Regions from separate parts of the Homo sapiens genome. Here regions 1, 3, 4 and 5 are each linked to region 2. Evidence: fine-mapped expression QTL. A gene starts in region 2. Each other region holds a variant in brackets. All regions are shown on one strand. Distances are between the middles of the regions.

Region 1 (4,000 bases), 32 kb after region 2:
CTCCGTCTTCTTCGGAATCATCCTCTGAAGCTGTTGAAAGAAAACAGGATGATCAAGAATGATTTTAAGGGGGATAAGAATGGGAAGTGTAAATATGAAGCCAGAACAGCAATGACTTGTAAAAACAAAAATCCCAATTTAGTATATTGTTTGATCAAAATGATAAGTTGTATGACAGGGTTAGGGTGGTCTGCCTGTGGGTGATACCCAACCACAATTCTCCCCGCCCCCACACCGTTTTGTAATGTTATATCAATTTTTATAAAAATGAAAGTGCTTAAAAATGTGGTTCAAGAGCATCTTCTAAAATGTTTCTGAGATCAATCTGTGTTCATAGTAGCTAATGATATATAAACACTAGGAAAAAAGTCAACTTAAGGCAAGTGCTCTCACACACCTGAGTAAAATCTGGCTTATTACCGCTGCATGTTTGGTGCATCCGATGAGAATGAAAAGAAGTGTACATAGAATAAGAGGTTATGGGTGTTCTTGCAATTTACATCAAAGCTATGTCTATACAATGCCAAGATAAAAGTTCATTTAGTAAGTCAAAAAAGCTTCATATAGACACAGCCTAAATTAAAATAATTGGATTCAGTAAAAACCTACTGTTGAGATTATTCCCCTGTCTCCACACTGCCAGAAACTTACCACTTTTGCAACATTTCTGACCTCAATTTATTCAAGAGTCACTAGTGGCTCAAGAGTTAAAAATAAAGCATCCTGGGTGTCTTTAGGAAAGACATAGTAAGTGTAAAACTATGAATTCTATGAACTGCTTTGCACGTGTAAGAAAATGCAAGCTCACTAAAATAAACATCTAACCAGCATCTTTCCCCCATTATAGGGCAAAACGGTTTAATGCCCTCTCTTTTTATATTTACATTGGACAAATTAAGAGCATCCAACAAATGGAATCAACCTAGGGCAAAGCACAGAAAAACTATGCAACACTAATAGATTTAAATCCATTTAATAAATGACAAAGCATATAACTAAGTCATGACTGATAATAAACTCTACTGTTAAGTTTTATGCTCTATCACTGAGAAATACCAAACTAAAAAATTACAGCTTATTAAGGAACTTCTTGTGTTTTTCCATTTAACTCCACTCCACAGGAGAGGATAATTTAGTCAGAACCCATTTCAGAATGTACTAATACTCTGATATTTAGGGGTTAACTTGCAGCACCCTTGTCTTTCATGCTTATTTGAGTATGGACATATTTCACCTCCATCTTTTTCTTCCCACATGTTAGGAGCAGACAATACTATGTTTAAGAAACTAAATTTTAAACGAGAATGTTAGTTTTTTAAAATGGAGAAATCTGGGGAAAACATACACTGAAACAAATTACTATCATGACGTTGGACAAAGTATAAATTGTAATTTAAAAAAACAAAGAAGAGACCTTTGTATTAGGCCAACCTAAGGGATCTGAAAGAAGGTATAAAGGGAAAAAATTTTATACCAAGTGAATTCACACTGACTCCTTTCTTTTCACATATCCTAATTAAAACTGTGAAAATATGTTACCTGGTTTCATCTCAAAACCTTTAAAAACTTGAAAGTAGTATAGACAATGACAAAAATCTATGTTTTAGATTATCTAGAATTAAAAAGTTCCTATGAGGACTAAGTCCTTTTTAAACCTTACTTCAAAGGATGCTGAGCTTTCTCTAAAAGTAAAAATGTTATGCACACTATAGATAACACTCCAAATAGTCTGAAGATGAGTATAGAAGTATTCAACTGAAGAATACGTATTTTAAAAAGACACTTTGGATAGTGTTTTGGAATGGGCAACAAAGGGTGAAAAAGTAAAATATGTAGGGGTTGGGTGGGGTAATCTTCAATTTCTAGAAACTATTCCAGAGCCACCAATACCTATGCCCACATGGTATGAAGCACACTGGAAGTTACAGGACATTAAGAAGAGGGTAGGCTGTATAGATGCCTGTAGAGATTTGAGAATTAAGTGCCTTCACTTATAATCCCAGCCAGAAATCCTGATGCTGGAATGTGATCTTAAGAGATTTGAGCTGTTGGCAGAGCTGGCTACCTATTAAAGGTCCATGAGGACCTACAAAAAGCCAAAAAAAAACCCACTACCACCACCACCAACAACAAAAAACCCACAAAACAAAGCCCTTCATGGCTTCTGATATGGATTCAGAATTAGGACTCCTTGTCCCATATTTTCCTGGAATCATAGGTAAGCCCAGGAATAATCTCTTATGATCTAACAAACCTGAGTAACAGGTAAAATTTCTTACCAGAAACGAAACAAAACAAAATCCTAACAGATTAAGAAATGTTGGTTTGATTAGTAGTTAAGATTTATGCCTTTTTTATTATAAATCCTGAAATCAAGGTGATCAACAATAAATTTCTCTTTGAAAAAAAAAAGTAAAATGCAGTTAAAATTACATGCTTCCATACCTTAAAATATGCTTAAAAAAAAAAA[C/AC]AACTAATGTCAGTTTCCCAACCCATATTTCCCAAATCAATCATTTTGGTATTACTAAGCCTATAAATGAGCTCTAATTTGGCAGAACAGAGTATATACTTAGGTTTTGCTTTGGGTTTAATTTGCAAAAGTAAATTCAACAAGTCTGGGGAGGGGAAATTCCACCTACTTTCGAGATCTTCCATATGTGCCTGAAGAGTTCTTGCAAGGTTAATAAACTAGAAACAATGCAGAAAGAAATACAGTAGTTTAAATGTTGCAAATGGATCTAAAGAGAGAATCAGTATAGGAGATTCATTTCTACTTAAAAAGTCAAACATCAGTTTAAGCCTTTAAATAGGGGTTTTTCTCCCCCTAACATCAAAAATCACAAGCTTAATGGCATTAATTTTTAAATGTTTTATATAATCTTTATAATCATGTAGAAACCAGTTTTTTAAAATTGGGAGCAGATACAATAATTTTATCCAATGATATTGTCTTCTTATAAACACTTCAAAAAATTACGAAATGGAGGAAAAAAAACAAAAAACAAAAAACCACCCTTGTATTTGGACCCAAATAAATTCAGTTTCAGTGGGCGCGCGCACACACACACACACACACACACACACACACACACACACACACAAAACTCCCAAGAACCAATATTTTCCTACCTAAATTTGATAAAAGTATACAGTTCTATACATTAAAAAAAATCCTAATGACTTCCACTTTGGAGTATCATCCAAAATTCTGTAATTTTCCACTGTAAAACTTGTTAATATGAACTTTTAAAAACACATGAATTCAGAAGTTCTTAAATGTTTTATATGGTTTATTCATCCTGAAGACTTAAGGTACCTTTTTAGAAATCATTTTACGGTATTAAGGTTTTAGGGGCTCACAATTTGTAAAGTACTTAGAAGTCAAGAGATCTTTGCTCAAATTCTGAATGCTCTTGATAGATAATATGAATGCTCTTCAATGGTAATTATCTGTTAACCAGCTCACTGGAATAATGTCCACATGATAAAATAAAGAAAAATTTTTTACTAATTTAGAAGGAGTATTACATACATTGAATTGCAGTTATTTGATAATTTTCAAAATAAAAACATTACATGAACTCTACTACACTTTTATCACCGAAGTTAACATGTAAGAAAGTTTGAAGGATATACTTATGAACACATTTCAAGACATGAAGTGTTCAGAATGCTACAATAATGGCAGATACATAGAGACCCTAGCCCTTGCTACACAAAATGGCCCAGACAGCAAAGCATAAAGTTTCCTCTGGTACACTGACACAAAGAGCATCATTTACTTATAAATACCTAACATACAGCTGGCCAAAATGTTGTATTATGGCTAATAGCACACACAGTAAACAACCAACTATTCCATATCTAAAATACTTTGTAATATGGACACTTAAAAATTAGTACACTGGTAATCTTTTGTAGAACAGTAACAAATAAATTGAAGTTAATTTCCCATACTCTTTGGCTTTTGGAGTTCAATTTCAGGTTTCTAAGTGATAAT
Region 2 (4,203 bases):
TGGCAACCATTTATCTTTTTACTGTCTCCATAGTTTTGCCTTGTCTAAAATGTCATATAGTTGGAATCATATAGTATGCAGTCTTTTCAGATTGGCTTCTTTCTCTTAGCAATACATATTTAAAGTTCTTCCATGTCTTTTTGTGGCTTGATAGCTCATTTAATTTTGGTACTGAGTAACATTTCATTGTTTGGATGTGCCATTGTTTATCCATTCACTTATTGAAGGACATCTTGTTTGCCTCTAGGTTCTGGCAATTATGAATAAAGCTGCTATCAACATTCATGTGCAGGTTTTTGTGTGTATGTAAGTTTTTAACTCATTTGGATAAATACCAAGGAGTTGTGATTGCTAGATGGTATGGTAAGAGTACGTTTAGTTTTGGAAGAAGCTTCCAAATTGTCTTCCAAAGTGGCTGTACCATTTTGCATTTGCACCAGCATTGAATGAGAGTTCTTTTTGCTCCACATCTTTGCCAGCATGTGGTCTTGTCAGTGTTTTTGGATTCTGGTATCTAATAGGTATGTAGTGGTATTTCATTTTTGTTTTCATATACAATTCAGCAATGACATATGATGTTGAGCATCTTTTCATCTATTTGCCATTATATAACTTCTTTGATGACGTGTGTATTCAGATCATCTGACCATTTTTTTTAACTGGGTCATTTGTTTTCACGTTGTTGAGTTTAGACTTGATTTTATAGAACTCTTTTGCCAATGACATGAGGCTTAAACAAGCACCCTTGCTTGACCCTGGCTAGTGTTGTCCAGAGGCCCTCATGGGTGAAGTATAATTGCACAGTTTATGCATACATTGTAGCAAACATAGCTTAAAGACTCTTCATCCAGGAGCTGGTAACAGAGAAAAGTTGTCTAAGAGACATAGTCCACTGAAAGGGGTCTTTGAAAAGGAGGATTCTGGCCAGTAGATCCAAAGAAGAAGGCTGGCAAACGCCACCTTAACCAACTGATCCAAGTTAACATCAGTGATGAGACATCGACATCTTGTCCTTCTCGAGCACGTACATCACTTCTGGGGAACTCTTTCCCAAAAAAGCGCAACCTGAATCCAATTAGAAGGAAATGTCAGACAAAATGAAACTGAGGGACATTCTACAAAACGACTGGCCAGTACTTTTTAAATGTGGTTTGATCGTGAAAGAAAAAGAATGACAGAGAACCGTCCTAGATTAAAGGGAGACTAAGGAGACACGACATGCAATGTATGATCCTGGATTGAATCTTGGAACAGAAAAGGACCCTTAGAGGGGCAATTAATGAAATGTGGTAAGTGCTGTAGATTAGCTAATCGCATTATCCCAGTGCGAGTGCCCTGTGTTTGATCACTGCACTGGCGTTATATACAATGTCAATATTTAGAGAAGCTGGCTGAAGGGTTACGGAAATCTCTTGTGCTGTTTTTGCAACATTTTCGAAAGTCCTAAATTATTTCAATTCAAATGAAAAGTTTAAAAAACAAAAATTAGAAGTTCCAGAAGGCCGCGCGCCAGCCGCTCCTGCGGGACGGGACACCCGGGTTCTCCTGGTGGGAGCCCCCAGTGCCGTTCACGTTCCGCCCGGGGGGGGGATTAAACTCGCACGCGAGAAGCACCGCCCCCGCTCCCGCCCCGCCCCGCTCCTCTCCGGCCGCGCAGCCGCTGCCGCCCACCCGCACCCGCCGTCATGCTCCGGGCCGCGCTGCCCGCGCTCCTGCTGCCGTTGCTGGGCCTCGCCGCTGCTGCCGTCGCGGGTAAGCCCTTACGTAGTCCCTCGCCGGGACCGTGCGCGACCGCCTTCGCCCCCTTCCCAACGCACGCTCTTCGTCCCCGCGCACCCGAGGGCGGCCCGCAGACGCAACACCCGGCCGGCCATCCCGCCCTTCCCTGCACGCCCGTCCCCCGTGGGTCCTGGCTCCGGGTCACCTCTCACCCGCCTGCCCTCGGGGAGGGGAGGTGGCCGAGAATAAGGGAGGGCTCTGTCTTCCTCGGAGTCCACATCCTCACCGCAGACCCCACTCCGCGGGGAGGGAACCCCCAAATTAGGCCAGTTGGCCGGAGAACTGAGGGACTTGGAGTCGCACGACGGGCGCCGTTTCAGGGCAATTTCGGGCTGAAATGAGAAGCGGGGACGTTGGTGGCGATTTCCCCTGCTGGTGCGCGGCCGGAGTGGGGTTGCTGGGATGGGGGTGGGGGCCGGAGGAAGTAGGCCCTCTTTTGCAAGCAGCGCTGTTTGTCTAGTTGGTTGGTGTTCAAGTTGTTTAAACAGGAAAACAGTTCAGCCAAATAACCCCTGGATGGAAGAGGAACGGGAATAGGCAAAGCTTGGATTTCACTGAAATCAAGGAGTTTTAAAGTTCTAGTCTGCTGTTGTGCAAGTGACATCTGAAAAATCACACACGTGATCATTCATTTACAAAACGACTCGTGAGGAAAATGCACAATTCTATTGACCGTGGTCTTTATTTTTAAAAAATTTCCATACAAGCATGTCAAAAATATGTGGATGGGGAGACTCTGGAGAACACAGACTTCCAAAAACACCACTGACTGAATAATTCCAGGAATTAAAGAGCAAAATAAACAAGAACTAAATGAGTACTTGTGTGGGCTTAAATAAAGTGCAAGAGATTTAAATAAAATGCAAGAGATTCCCCCCCCCCACCCCTTGCCCCAGATTTCACTGCGTTTTTATAATAACTGCCTGCTCGAAGTCTACTGACAGGAATATTTCAGTGGACCTCAGTGTTGGAGGCAGCAGCAGCTCAGAACTTGGATACAAACCCAAGGTTCCTTTCTTGAAAACTTCTGTGGACCTGCATTTATGACTGGTTGTGACATCTGCTGCCTATCAAAGGGGCAGAAACAAGATGTGCCCATGTTCACATTGTTCAGACTGGGAACATTAATTTTGTCTAAGACAAAGCTGGGCTGTCTCTGAACCCTCCTTCTGCACACCCTCATTTTGCGAGCCAGTAACATCTCAACTCTCATGTAAACCACCCTCTGCGAGGCTGTGCATTTGTACTTTAGGCTAGTCGAATTTTCTTGTCAGATTTTTCTTTCTTGTCAGACTTTTAAAGAAAATCAGTTTCTAGATTTTGGTATGTCTCTTCTTCAGTGAAGCTGTTTTGACCAGCAATAGAGGGCAAATTTCCCTTTGGAAATTTTTGTGCATTTCCTTTGATAAGTCCAGTGTGGATCAATAGGCTTTTCAAGAGCTTTAGAAAAGTGCATGATGAATAAATTAATGTTAATTAATCAGCTCCTCCCAGTCAGGAAGCTTTAAGGATTAATTTGGAAATGAGTGTGAGCTTTGACCTAGCTAGTTAACCAACTTATCTGCACTTCAGTAAAACAGAGATAATACTTACTCATGGGGCTATTGGGAGCATTAAGTGGGAACTCCACGTCTAGTCCCTATTACAGGCGTGGTTCATCTTGGTTTCCTTCCCTTTATTCTCTTCATACAAAATGAAGGGTAATTGTTGCAACCAGAAAACGTATGAATACCACCTTATGTATATTGGATGTTTATGGTTACTGAACACATTCATATGTATGCTAATGTTATAGGGCTGAAAAACTAAGTGTGTTTTTCATAATACTTTACAAATCTCCCATCCAAGCAAGATCAGGGGTCATATTTGGCTTAGAACTAAGTCAAGAAAGAGTTTGTTGCTGAATACCAAGATCTTAATAGAAAAGCTCTTATGATGTTGCATAATAAATATGGGTATTGCATATAAATGTGATGTTGAAACGGAAATCATTGTTATTGTCTGTCATTCTGGAGGTTATTAGTGAAGTGATCTTAACCTTGTTCTTAGCTATTATTTTGAAAATCACAGTGGACAAAACATTCTTTAAATTCCTGAGTGAAAATCCATGGCATCGCTTTAAAAAGTTTTTCCGTAAGGGTGCTTAAGCACATAATAGATGATCAGTATGTATTTATTTGGTCAGTGGTTTCCTATGCCTGGCATGAGCTGAGTGAACAAGCATGTTCCGAGTAAGTCCTCATTCTGTGATCATCATGTGGATCAGAATCTAGGGATTTTGAATTGCCATGTCCTACAAGCCTTAGATGAGGTGCCTCTGCCTTCTTCCCTGATGTCATCTCTTACCACCCTTCCTGCCATTCACTCTGTGTATCCACAGAGTAAACAGTATCTGGGTACTCCAACACCTCTGGTCCTTCTGTG
Region 3 (4,000 bases), 60 kb after region 2:
CTCACTGTTCATTAAACAATTTTCATGACTCACGACACAACATGTAGATTATATGGCTATATCCAAGACAAAAAATGTTTGTTAATATCAGCATATAGATATACATATCAGTATACATAATGTCAGTATATAGAAGGAATGTTTTGGTTAGTTTTGCTATTGGCTTGAGTTCAAAATCAAACCTTTTCCTGGTTCCTACAATCCAATTTTGTCCATATTTGTTCAAATATCCTCAGTCTGAAGCAATTGTTTTTTTCCCTCGGAATTCTTTGAACAATTAAATAAAGTGTCAGATTCATTTAACAATGTATTATCTCTTCTGCTGTCCAGAACTATAGGCCAAATGAAATCAGGGAATAAGTCTGTCTTCAAAGTATACCACATTGGGCATGACGAATCCTTAAACAAGTAGTTTTGGGGTTGTTTTCACTTATAAACAATGCCGTTATGAACAACTGTAAATTTTTGTATGGATGTATGTTTTCAATACTCTTGGGTGTAACTGATAGATCATGTAGTAACTTGATGTTTGATATTTGGGGGAATTACTATTTTTCCAACTATAGGTTGATGCTAACAGCTGTGATGGCAGCAGCAGTTCATCTGGAGCGGCTGCCACAAAGACGCCGGCTGCAGCAGGGGAGGCGTGGCAGGGTCTGTGCGCTCCACAGAGTCAGCAACAGGTGGGAGCCCTGACCACTTCCAAGTTGGTGGGGTGGGAGCCCTGTGCTCCCTGACCCAGCTGTGGCTGTAGACTTGGGTATCCCTGTGCTCTCAGGGGCCTGAGAAGCCTCCCTTCCCGCCCCCGCCTCCTGCTCCGATTTTGGAGCAAAGTTTTGGCCAAGCTTGGGCACTGTCACGATCCAGGTGTGTATGCGCATGCTTGGGGCAGTGCCGACACACCAGCCCACTGCTACCTTGGCCCCCGTCTGGACTTTGGGCACCAACAAGCACAAAGGGAAGCCAAGGGGGAACTGAGGGTGGCTTGGCATGGGTCTGCAGGCATCCCTTGGCACAAACAGCCTGGGTGCCATGAACAGTAGCAGGAGGCAGACATGCTCCTGGGTGAAAAGGGGCAGGTCCCTAGTGAAACCCTACCTTTAAGCCTGGGATGGCCTGAAGCCTGGAGGCTGGGCTGCCAGTTCCACGGACCGGAGTGAGAACTTATGGTGCTTATCCCAGGCCCACCCATTGCCTCCCATGGACCAATCAGCATGCACTTCCTCTTCTCTGAAGCCCATGAAAATCTGACTCAGCCAGATGTCAGGCTGACTTCCCTATGGACAGGAGCTACCCACTCCTGTCTGGTCTCCTCTCCACTGAAAGCTACACACTCGTTGGGATGACCTGCCTGTGGAAAGGAGCCACCCACTTTGGGTCTCCTGAGAGCTGTGCTACTGCTCAATAAAGCCCCTCTTCGCCTTGCTAACCCTCCAACTGTCTGTGTACCTCATTCTCTCTGGACGTGGGACAAGAACTCGGGACCCGCCAAATGGTGGGACTCGAAGAGCTGTAACACAAACAGTGCTGAAACATCCCTTCCTACCCCCCACTCACCATGCTGCCGGCGACAAGGACGGAAGAGCTCTGACCCTTTGGGGAGTCCAGACCTAGGAGCTCCCTGAACCAGGGCTGTGACAACCTCTTTGGG[G/A]CTCTGTAGTTCCTTGTGTCTCCAAGCTTTTGGGTGCCACTGCGTTCCTCAGTGCCCACAGAAGCTGCTGCCTGTGGTACACCTGATCCATCCACAGCCTCATAGGGCACCAGTGCCTAGAGCTGCCTGCCCCACTGCACCCAGTGTGCCTGGCTGTAAACGGTGGCCGGACCCTGCGCTCACTTGCCCATGCACCCCCTGCCGATCCATGTCTGGCTCACCCTTGGCAGGCGTGGGATCCGAGCTGATAGCACGAGTCGAACAAAGCCTGCCAGTCCGAGTAGGCAGAACACACCCAGCAGGCCCGAGCAAAACCTGGGCAAAGGCACCACCAGCCACAGAGGCTTCTAGCTGGAAAAGCAACACTCCAAGTGCTGACAGCTGTACCATTTTACAGTCCCATCAACTATGTATGAAGGTTCCAATTTCTCCACCACTTACCAACACTGTGATTGTCCATCTTTTTTTTTAATTTTGAGACAGGGTCTCAGCTCTGTTGCCCAGGCTAGAATGCAGTGATGCAATCACAGGTGACTGTGGCCTTGACTTCCTGGGCCCAAGCAATCCTTCCACCTCAGCCTCCAGAGTAGCTGAGACTACAGGCATGCGACACCATGCACAGCTAATTTTTAAATTATTTCTTGGTAGAGACTGGGTCTCACTATGTTGCACAGGTCTCAAATTCCTGGGTTCAAGCAATCCTCCCAGATTTGGCCTCCCAACTCAGGCCTGGGATTACAGGCATGAGTCACTGTGCCCAGCCTATCCATCTTTTTTATTTTGGCTATGCTAGTGGGTGTTAAGTATCTCACTGTAGTTCTGACTTGCATTTCCCTAATGACTAATATTTTTTCATGTGCTTATCAGCCATTAATATATCTTTGGAAAAATGTTTATTAAAGTCCTTTGCCCATTTGAAATTGGGTTATATTTTTATTGTTGAGAGGTAAGAGTTCTTCATATATTCTGGATACAAGTCTCAGTATCCAGTAAGATATATACTTTGCAAATATTTTCTCTCATTCTGTGGATTGTCTTTTCACTCTCTTGGTATCGATGCACACAAATTTTAATTTTTATGAAAACTAATCAATCTTTTTTTGCATTTCCTGCCTCCCGACTATGAGCACTCGTATGAAACTAGATGGAAGCAACTAAATTTACACTGGAGTTTAAAGAGGTTTCTTTCTTTTTCATTAACTTTCCAGTCTCTACCCAGACAGGTAACAGATTTGGCTCCCAGAGTAAATAGTTTTCATCAGTTATTTCCAATTCAAAAGGCTATCTGTGATATGGTGAATTGTATGGTATATGAATTATAACTCAATAAAATGAGGGAAGAGGTGGAGGGCTATCTAGCCCAACCAAAGTAGCTGAAATACTATATAGTGTATCTGAGAAATCATCAATAAGACAGCTTGGAGACTTAATAGCTATAGATACTCTATGCACAATGAATAGAAAATAACTTTCCAAGACTTTATATAACTAGCAGGCATCCAATTTTCATTTTATTTCTTTTTACCTTCATAATAGTTATTCATACCACCTTTCCAACAAGAGGTTTACTGGAAGTATAGTCAATGAAATCATTTACTATTACTATTGTATAAGTCAATATTTGCTTTCAGAAAATTATTTCTAAGGTTTTAAAATATTTTCCCAACACAAATGCCCTTAAAACAATGCAATTAAAAAAATAAAAAAACTTAAGGAGAAAATATTTGCAAATCATGTATCCAATAAGGAGCTTGTATCTAGAATATATAAAGAACACTTACAACTGAGTAACAAGACAAGTGTACTTTAAAATGAGCAAAGGAACTATTATAAATAGGCATTTCTGAAAAATGTACAGTAAACGGCCAATTAGCACATGAAAAGATGTATAACATCATTAGTCATCAAGGAAATCCAAATCAAAACCACAATGAGATACATACCACTTCATACCCATTGGGATGGCTAGAATCAGAAAGTAAGATAAGTGCTGATGAGAATGTGGAGAGACTGGAATCTTCATACACACAAAAGGGAATGTAAAATGATCTAGCCAGTTTGAAAACAGTATGGCAGTTCCCCAAACGATTGAACACAGAGGTTATGCATGACTCGGCAATTCCATTCCCTTATTTTAAGAGACAGGGTCTCACTCTATGGCCCAAGCAGTAGTGAAGTGGTGCCATCATAGCTCACTGAAGCCTCAACCTTATGAGCTTAAGGGATCCTTCCACCTCAGCCTCCCAAAAAGTTAGGACTACAGGTGTGCACCACCATATCAGGTTAGTTTTGAAATTTTTTTAGAGATGGGCTATCACTATATTGCCTAGGCTGGTCTTGTACTCCTGG
Region 4 (4,203 bases), 62 kb before region 2:
CCCTGTGATCCACCCGCCTCAGCCTCCCAAAGTGCTGGGATTACAGGTGTGAGCTACCGTGCCCTTCCACGCCCAGCTAATTCTTATATTTTTTTGTAGAGATAGGGTTTCACCATGTTGCCCAGGCTGGTCTCAAACTCCTGAGCTCAGGCAGTCTACCCATCTTAGCCTCCCAAAGTGTTGGAATTACAGGTGTGAGCCACATCTGGCCACAAGTGATTGTTTTCAAAGCTTTCTCTTTATACTGTTTATTTTCATTTTTATAGTAAGAAGCTTTTCTTTTTATTATCTAAATATGGAAGAGTTATACAAAAAATAAAATATCTTTTTCTGGGGGGACTAGGTGGGGATGACAGAGTCTCACTGTGTCACCCAGGCTAGAATACAGTGGTGCCAGTATGACTCACTGCAGCCTCAACCTCCTGGGTTCAATTGATCCTCATGTCTCAGCCTCTCAAGTACAGGCACATGCCACCACATCCAGCTAATTTTTGTATTTTTTGTAGAGATGGGGTTTCACCATGTTGCCCAGGCTGGTCTCGAATTCCTGGGCTCAAGCCATCTGCCAACCTTGGCCTCCCAAAGTGCTGGGATTACCAGCATGAGTCACTGTGCCTGGCCAAAAGTATCCTTATTGGAGGAAATTATTTGTTTGGAGAAACCTCTAGAAAATCCTTGCTATTATTCCACATTTATATTATAAGGATATATTAGTGTAATAGTTATAGGAGCAAAATTATTCTCAGATATTCAATATTTACTCCAATTTTTGTCACCAAAAATTGGTGACTCCAATGTCACCTCCTTTTTTATTCTTTCTAAATGTAAAACTCCTTGAGTTTATTTTCAAATTGGAGCATATCTGAGATTAGTTAATCAAATAATGAGCATTTCAACACATGCAAAAAAAGAAAAAAGTATTTTGCAAACCTGATTCTCTATGACTCCAGCGGCGAACTTAATACACTATTAACTTCCACTTCTGAAACTGTGGCTTCCTTTGTTTGGAAACTTATGACATTATGACATTTGCTAAGTCCTCTCATGATTTAGCATCATGATATAAAAAAGAGATGGAAAAGTTTTCTTTCTGTGGCATATCAACGCACTTGAGTGATTAAGGCTGCCTAAATTACATCTAAATTGCAAATATTTATACATCAGTCTTAAATTCTCAAGCCTCTCTTGTCTTTTCAGGTGTCTACTATTATCATGCCAAATGAGTTTCAGCAGGATTATGACATCAGAGACTGTGCTGCTGTCAAGGTCAGTACAATGCTGGAAAATCTGCATATTTAAAACATAAGTCCATCATCATATGCAGTCAAGTAACAGATCCATGGAGTGTCTTTTTATGTGAAGCATGATGTTAGATGCAGTGAGAGATAAGCACACCCATGGCCTGGCCCTCAGCAGCCTAACTTACACTTCATTTGAGAGGATAAAATTCATATTCAAGAAAACCTCTCTCATTACCACGCAGTAATATGCTCCAAATGAGGGGGCTGAGGAAGGCTAATGAAATTCAGAGGAGAAAGTGAGTCCCATGGCCATTTCCCAGGAAGAGGTGGGACTTGAACTGGGACTTTAAGGATGGATAGAGTTTCTACAAATGGGATAGGGTAAGGTTTTTTCATGAGGGGATGGTATGAGAAAGTGGTATAAAATAAGGTGGAAGTGGAAGAGGGCAGTGGAGAACAGAATACAGATCAAGAAGTTTCATTGGTGCTGTCCTTGATAACAGTATTAGGAAATCAGATTGATGCCACTTTAAGGAATTTCTACACTTCTTGATAGGCAACAGGGCATTTTTTAAAGTTTCTGAGTAGGGAGGGTCACATGAACTAAGGAGGGTATGAGGAAGATTCATCTTGAGACAGATGTCAAAAGCAACAGGTAAGATTGGAAGGCATAGAAGACCAGTGAGGCATCTTCCTTTGCAGAATGCATTCATGTATCCATTTCATAAACAGTCCAAGGAGTCAGTGAGGCACTGGGTGATAGAACAATGACAAGGTACAAAGCATAGCCATTGTCTTCACAAAACTAAAGTCTAGTAGGAAATAAAGACAAGTAAACAAGCAATTACAACACCACTGAGTAAAGACTATGACATGCGAAATACAAGTTTTATGCAAGAACAAGAATATTATGAAAGAATAATAAGGATGGTGATGGTGATGGTCCATGGTGGTGGTGATGATGATGATGGAGCAGCTAACACTGATTAACTCCTTTATGAGCCAGCCACTATACTAGGCATGTCACATATGTCACATAGCACATAAGCAATCTTGTGAGGTAGGCACTGTTACTGTATTCATCTCACATGGAAATTTGAGCTGTGAGTAATTTACCCCAGCTTACATGGAGTAAATTTAAACTGAAAGAACTGAAATTTACACCCATGTGTGTCTGGGTCTGGTACTCTTAACCACTATGCTATATGACTAGGCATTTATAGAAATAGAAAGGGTATTGATTTATGAGAAAATTGTATGTTTTAGTTCAGATATTTTGAATCCAAGCTAGCTATAA[G/A]ATGTATGCTATGGTAAGTTGAGATCAAGAGTCTTGAGTTGAAAGGAAAATGTATATTTTTAAAAAAAGGGCCAAGAAGTGGATTTGGAGGAACTGCCAATATATAGAGTGAAAAAAGATGAAGATGGAGGAGACATCAGTTAATATCTTTGATTTGTAGTCCAAGAAAGAGATTCAACAAGGTGGCTGACCAGAAATGTTACAGGAAGGCTGAGGGATATAAGAACTGACAAAACCACAGGAAAGCACTGTTTTCAAAGTAACTCTTCTAGTAATAAACTGTGTAGTACATGTCATTTTTATAGAATTCCCAATGTAACACAGGAAAAGGTGAAAACTTCAGAGAAGCTTATGGAATTTTTAGTAGTGTTGAGAACACTGGTACAATAAACTGTGTTCTAGGGAAATAGAGTTGCCAAGTATGGAGAGATTTGAAAATCTACCAAATAAATAAAGAGATACTAATGCAACCTGCATCAGGAACAAGCCCAGCCAGGGCAGTGTTCTGTAAGGAAAATCTTACCTCACCTGCCACAGAACCCCCAGAAACTTGGTCTTAAGAGAAAATAGTCTAAGAAGTGATGGATGTCTCTCCCAAGTAATGCCTTCCCCTATCCTTTTTATCCTACTTGCTGACTGGAATTTGTAATGAGCCATCCTGGACCATGTGGAGAAGGGCAAAATCCTAGAAATGGCATGGTAACACCAGAGAAGGAGCCTGAGCCACTGAGGCTGGACCTTTATGTCGCTTTCTGATCTAATTTGATCACAGCTTGGTGCTTGGATACCTCTGAAATAAATATTCTAACAAAAATTGTCAGGTGTGGGGGAGAAAATTTGCATTTTGGACATAAACATGACTTTACAACATATTTCCTTTGTTAGCCCCTTTGAGGGCTCTTGCTCAGGGTATTACTGTTTAAATATTCCATTAATTCATGTGTTCATTTATCGAACAAATATCTTAGGTGCTAGAGCTAAAATAGAGATCAAAGTCATAGGGCTTACAGTTTAGTGTTCCATAAGGGATGTATCAACTTCAAAATATTCTGCAATACTTTTCCTCTTATAGGTATTTCATAGGCCATGGCGAAGAGGCTGGCATTTCTATGATGATAGAGAATTTATTTATTTGAGGCCTTTTGCTTGTGATACAAAACTTGAATGGGTGTGCCAAATTCCAAAAGGTAAGTGGTAGTTATTCCTTTTCACAACCTTCTCATGTTAACATTGTGAATGCCTAGCTCAAAGTAGCTAGGGGAGCATTTTGATCTATAATTCTGATGTCTAAAAGCCTATGATGATGATGCAATTAATATGTGGAGCACCCCCTGCCTGACTCCGGCTTCTAATAGAAGGCTAGCTTATTGAAATTTAGTGATATCTTACTCTTTGATCATGGAAGAATTTGCATAGAAGATAAAATGTGAGGCTCATTCAGGGAGATTAGATTTTGGATGAAATATTATTTTAAGCAAAAGGAGAAATGCAGAATCATTTTCGTTTTTATTTTGATGCAAAATGAAAAAATAAAGATAATCTTGGGAAGAATAAGGCAGAAGTCAAGAAATAAAAATTTGGCAGGTCCCTGTAAAATTTAGAAGCAATTTTCAATGAACTATAAAACTGCTAATACTTTATATAAATTCAAATTTGAGAAGCCAG
Region 5 (4,203 bases), 130 kb after region 2:
CTGGGCGACAGAGCGAGACCCTGTCTCAAAAAAAAAAAAAAAAAAAAGAATCATAAAAAAATATAATAAATTGGCCTTTTTTTAAAGATCAAAATTTAAAACTTTTGCTCTTTGAAAACACACTTAATAAAATGAAAATGCAGTGCATGCATGGAGGAACAATATTGTAAATATATATCAAAGGACTGGGACTTGCTTGCAGGATATTAACAGAACTTTTACAACTCAATAACAAGAAGAACGTGACCCATTTAACAAATGAACAAAAGTTTTGCCTAGGTACATCATAAAAGGATACATGAATGTGAAAATAACCACATGAAAATATGCCCAACATCATTAGTCAACAGGGAAATGCAAATTAAAACCAAAGACACCCATTTCACACACATTACAATTGTTAAAACTAAAAAAGATGTCCATATGGGATGCTGTTTAGGATGTGCACCAACTAGAATTTGCAAACACTGATGGTGGACGTGTAAAATGGAATCCACCTTAGAAAATGGTTTGACACGCCTATGTCCTGAATGGTAATGCCTAGGTTTTCTTCTAGGGTTTTTATGGTTTTAGGTCTAACGTTTAAATCTTTAATCCATCTTGAATTGATTTTTGTATAAGGTGTAAGGAAGGGATCCAGTTTCAGCTTTCTACATATGGCTAGCCAGTTTTCCCAGCACCATTTATTAAATAGGGAATCCTTTCCCCATTGCTTGTTTTTCTCAGGTTTGTCAAAGATCAGATAGTTGTAGATATGCGGCGTTATTTCTGAGGGCTCTGTTCTGTTCCATTGATCTATATCTCTGTTTTGGTACCAGTACCATGCTGTTTTGGTTACTGTAGCCTTGTAGTATAGTTTGAAGTCAGGTAGTGTGATGCCTCCAGCTTTGTTCTTTTGGCTTAGGATTGACTTGGTGATGTGGGCTCTTTTTTGGTTCCATATGAACTTTAAAGTAGTTTTTTCCAATTCTGTGAAGAAAGTCATTGGTAGCTTGATGGGGATGGCATTGAATCTGTAAATTACCTTGGGCAGTATGGCCATTTTCACGATATTGATTCTTCCTACCCATGAGCATGGAATGTTCTTCCATTTGTTTGTGTCCTCTTTTATTTCCTTGAGCAGTGGTTTGTAGTTCTCCTTGAAGAGGTCCTTCACATCCCTTGTAAGTTGGATTCCTAGGTATTTTATTCTCTTTGAAGCAATTGTGAATGGGAGTTCACCCATGATTTGGCTCTCTGTTTGTCTGTTGTTGGTGTATAAGAATGCTTGTGATTTTTGTACATTGATTTTGTATCCTGAGACTTTGCTGAAGTTGCTTATCAGCTTAAGGAGATTTTGGGCTGAGACGATGGGGCAAGGACTTCATGTCCAAAACACCAAAAGCAATGGCAACAAAAGCCAAAATTGACAAATGGGATCTAATTAAACTAAAGAGCTTCTGCACAGCAAAAGAAACTACCATCAGAGTGAACAGGCAACCTACAAAATGGGAGAAAATTTTCGCAACCTACTCATCTGACAAAGGGCTAATATCCAGAATCTACAATGAACTCAAACAAATTTACAAGAAAAAAACAAACAACCCCATCAAAAAGTGGGCGAAGGACATGAACAGACACTTCTCAAAAGAAGACATTTATGCAGCCAAAAAACACATGAAGAAATGCTCATCATCACTGGCCATCAGAGAAATGCAAATCAAAACCACTATGAGATATCATCTCACACCAGTTAGAATGGCAGTCATTAAAAAGTCAGGAAACAACAGGTGCTGGAGAGGATGTGGAGAAATAGGAACACTTTTACACTGTTGGTGGGACTGTAAACTAGTTCAACCATTGTGGAAGTCAGTGTGGCGATTCCTCAGGGATCTAGAACTAGAAATACCATTTGACCCAGCCATCCCATTACTGGGTATATACCCAAAGGACTATAAATCATGCTGCTATAAAGACACATGCACACGTATGTTTATTGCGGCACTATTCACAATAGCAAAGACTTGGAACCAACCCAAATGTCCAACAATGATAGACTGGATTAAGAAAATGTGGCACATATACACCATGGAATACTATGCAGCCATAAAAAATGATGAGTTCATGTCCTTTGTAGGGACATGGATGAAATTGGAAACCATCATTCTCAGTAAACTATCGCAAGAACAAAAAACCAAACACCGCATATTCTCACTCATAGGTGGGAATTGAACAATGAGATCACATGGACACAGGAAGGGGAATATCACACTCTGGGGACTGTGGTGGGGTCGGGGGAGGGGGGAGGGATAGCATTGGGAGATATACCTAATGCTAGATGACACGTTAGTGGGTGCAGCGCACCAGCATGGCACATGTATACATATGTAACTAACCTGCACAATGTGCACATGTACCCTAAAACTTAGAGTATAATTAAAAAAAAAAAAAAAAAAAAAA[AAAAAAAAAAG/G]AAAATGGTTTGACAGTTTCTTAAAAGTTAGCAACAGGCAGCCGGGCCCGGTGGCTCACACCTGTAATCCCAGCATTTTTGGAGGCCAAGGCAAGCAGATCACGAGGTCAGGAGTTCAAGACCAGCCTGGCCAACATAGTGAAACCCCGTCTCTACCAAAAATACAAAAATTAGCCGACGTGGTGGCATGTGCCTGTAATACCAGCTGCTCGGGAGGCTGAGGCAGGAGAATCGCTTGAACCCAGGAGGCAGAGGTTGCAGTGAGCCAAAACCAGACCACGCCATTGCATTCCAGCCTGGGTGACAGAGTGTGACTCCATCTCAAAAAAGAAAAAAAAAAAACATTAGCAACAGGCTGTGCGTGGTGGCTTACACCTGTAATCCCAGCACTTTGGGAGGCCAAGGCGGGAGGATCACCTGAGGTCAGGAGTTTGAGACCAGCCTGACCAACATAGTGAAACTGCATCTCTACTAAAAACACAAAAAATTAGCTGGGCGTGGTGGCACACACCTGTAATCCCAGCTACTTGGGAGGCTGAGGCAGGAGAATTGCTTGAGCCTGGGAGGCGGAGGTTGCAGTGAGCTGAGATCATGCCACTGCACTCCAGCCTGGCCGACAGTGAGACTCTGTCTCAAAAAAAAAAAGAAAAAAAAGAAAAAAAAAACAACAACAAAAGAAAATTAGATAAATTAGACTTTGCCAATGTTAAAACTTTTGTCCTAGGGTCACCATCAAAAAGGTAAAAGACCACCAACAGAATGGGAGAAATATTTGCAAATCATACATTTAATAAGAAACTTGTATCTTGAATATATAAATACCACTTACAATTCAATAAAAAGCTCATTTTAAAAAATGGACAAAGAATCAAAATACATATTTATCTAAAGAAGGTATATAAATGGTTTATAAGCACATGAAATTATGTTCAACATCATTAGCCATCAGGGAAATGAAAATCAAAATGACAATAAGATACTAATTCACAACCACTAGGATGGCTGTTTAAAAACCGAAAGTAAGGGCTGGGCGCAGTGGCTCACTCCGGTAATCCCAGCACTTTGGGAGGCTGAGGCAGGTGGATCATTTGAGGTCAGGAGTTCAAAGCCAGCCTGGCCAACATGGTGAAACCCCATGTCTACTAAAAATACAAAAAAAAAAAATTAGCCGGGCATGGTGGTGGGCACCTGTAATCTCAGCTACTCGGGAGGCTGAGGCAGGAGAATCACTTGAGCCCGGGAAGCAGAGATTGCAGTGAGCAGAGATCACGCCATTGCACTCCAGCCTGGGCTACAGCAAGCCTTCATCTCAAAAACAAAACAAAGCGAAACAAACAAACAAAAGTAAAAAACAAGAACCAGTGAGAATGTGGAAATATTGGAACCTCTCATATGGTGCTGGCAGGTATGTAAAGTGGTTCAGCCACTGTGTGGAAAACAGTTTGGCAGTACATGAAAAAGCTAAACATAGAAATACCATATAACCAAACAATTCTACATTTAGGTATATACCTTAAATAATTAAAAACAGATACCCAAACAAATACTTGTGCATGAATGTTTATAGTAGTACTATATACAATTGCCAAAAGGTGGAAAGAACTAAATGTCCATCAACAGATCAATAAGCAAATTGTGGTATAATCTATCCAATGGAATATTATTTTTGGCCAACAAAAAGGAATAGTGGTGCATGCTACAGTGCAGATGAGCCTTGATAACATGCCAAGTGAAAGCAACCAAATACACAAGGC

What was found. PIP is the estimated chance that this variant, and not a neighbour inherited with it, causes the effect.
Region 1: its variant is the best candidate, but not a certain one, in a credible set for the expression of CD302 in Th17 cells (Schmiedel 2018, PIP 0.77).
Region 3: its variant is the best candidate, but not a certain one, in a credible set for the expression of CD302 in whole blood (TOPMed, PIP 0.55).
Region 4: its variant is the best candidate, but not a certain one, in a credible set for the expression of CD302 in whole blood (TOPMed, PIP 0.83).
Region 5: its variant is the best candidate, but not a certain one, in a credible set for the expression of CD302 in whole blood (INTERVAL, PIP 0.58).

The regions. Positions count from the first base shown.
Region 1 is chr2:159,763,314-159,767,313 of GRCh38, reverse strand. MARCHF7 (membrane associated ring-CH-type finger 7) reads right to left here. Exons shown (of 12, transcript NM_001282805.2): 11 at 2,640-2,688; 12 at 1-30. Among named protein-coding and RNA genes, the nearest start is that of CD302, 33 kb to the left of the region's middle. The variant C/AC (reference allele first, on the strand shown) is at 2,471.
Region 2 is chr2:159,795,681-159,799,883 of GRCh38, reverse strand. CD302 (CD302 molecule) reads left to right here and starts at 1,676. Exons shown (of 6, transcript NM_014880.5): 1 at 1,676-1,752. The coding sequence starts at 1,686. The region is part of intron 33 of LY75-CD302 (LY75-CD302 readthrough); the gene reads left to right. LOC124906083 (a long non-coding RNA gene) reads right to left here. Exons shown (of 2, transcript XR_007087273.1): 1 at 1,932-4,203; 2 at 1-1,065.
Region 3 is chr2:159,735,916-159,739,915 of GRCh38, reverse strand. All of the region lies in intron 4 of MARCHF7 (membrane associated ring-CH-type finger 7), which reads right to left. Among named protein-coding and RNA genes, the nearest start is that of MARCHF7, 25 kb to the right of the region's middle. RefSeq lists an enhancer at 1,335-2,327. The variant G/A (reference allele first, on the strand shown) is at 1,652.
Region 4 is chr2:159,857,884-159,862,086 of GRCh38, reverse strand. LY75-CD302 (LY75-CD302 readthrough) reads left to right here. Exons shown (of 38, transcript NM_001198760.1): 15 at 1,198-1,266; 16 at 3,611-3,725. LY75 (lymphocyte antigen 75) reads left to right here. Exons shown (of 35, transcript NM_002349.4): 15 at 1,198-1,266; 16 at 3,611-3,725. Among named protein-coding and RNA genes, the nearest start is that of LY75, 45 kb to the left of the region's middle. The variant G/A (reference allele first, on the strand shown) is at 2,539.
Region 5 is chr2:159,662,102-159,666,304 of GRCh38, reverse strand. It overlaps a transcript of BAZ2B not described here. Among named protein-coding and RNA genes, the nearest start is that of BAZ2B, 48 kb to the right of the region's middle. The variant AAAAAAAAAAG/G (reference allele first, on the strand shown) is at 2,440.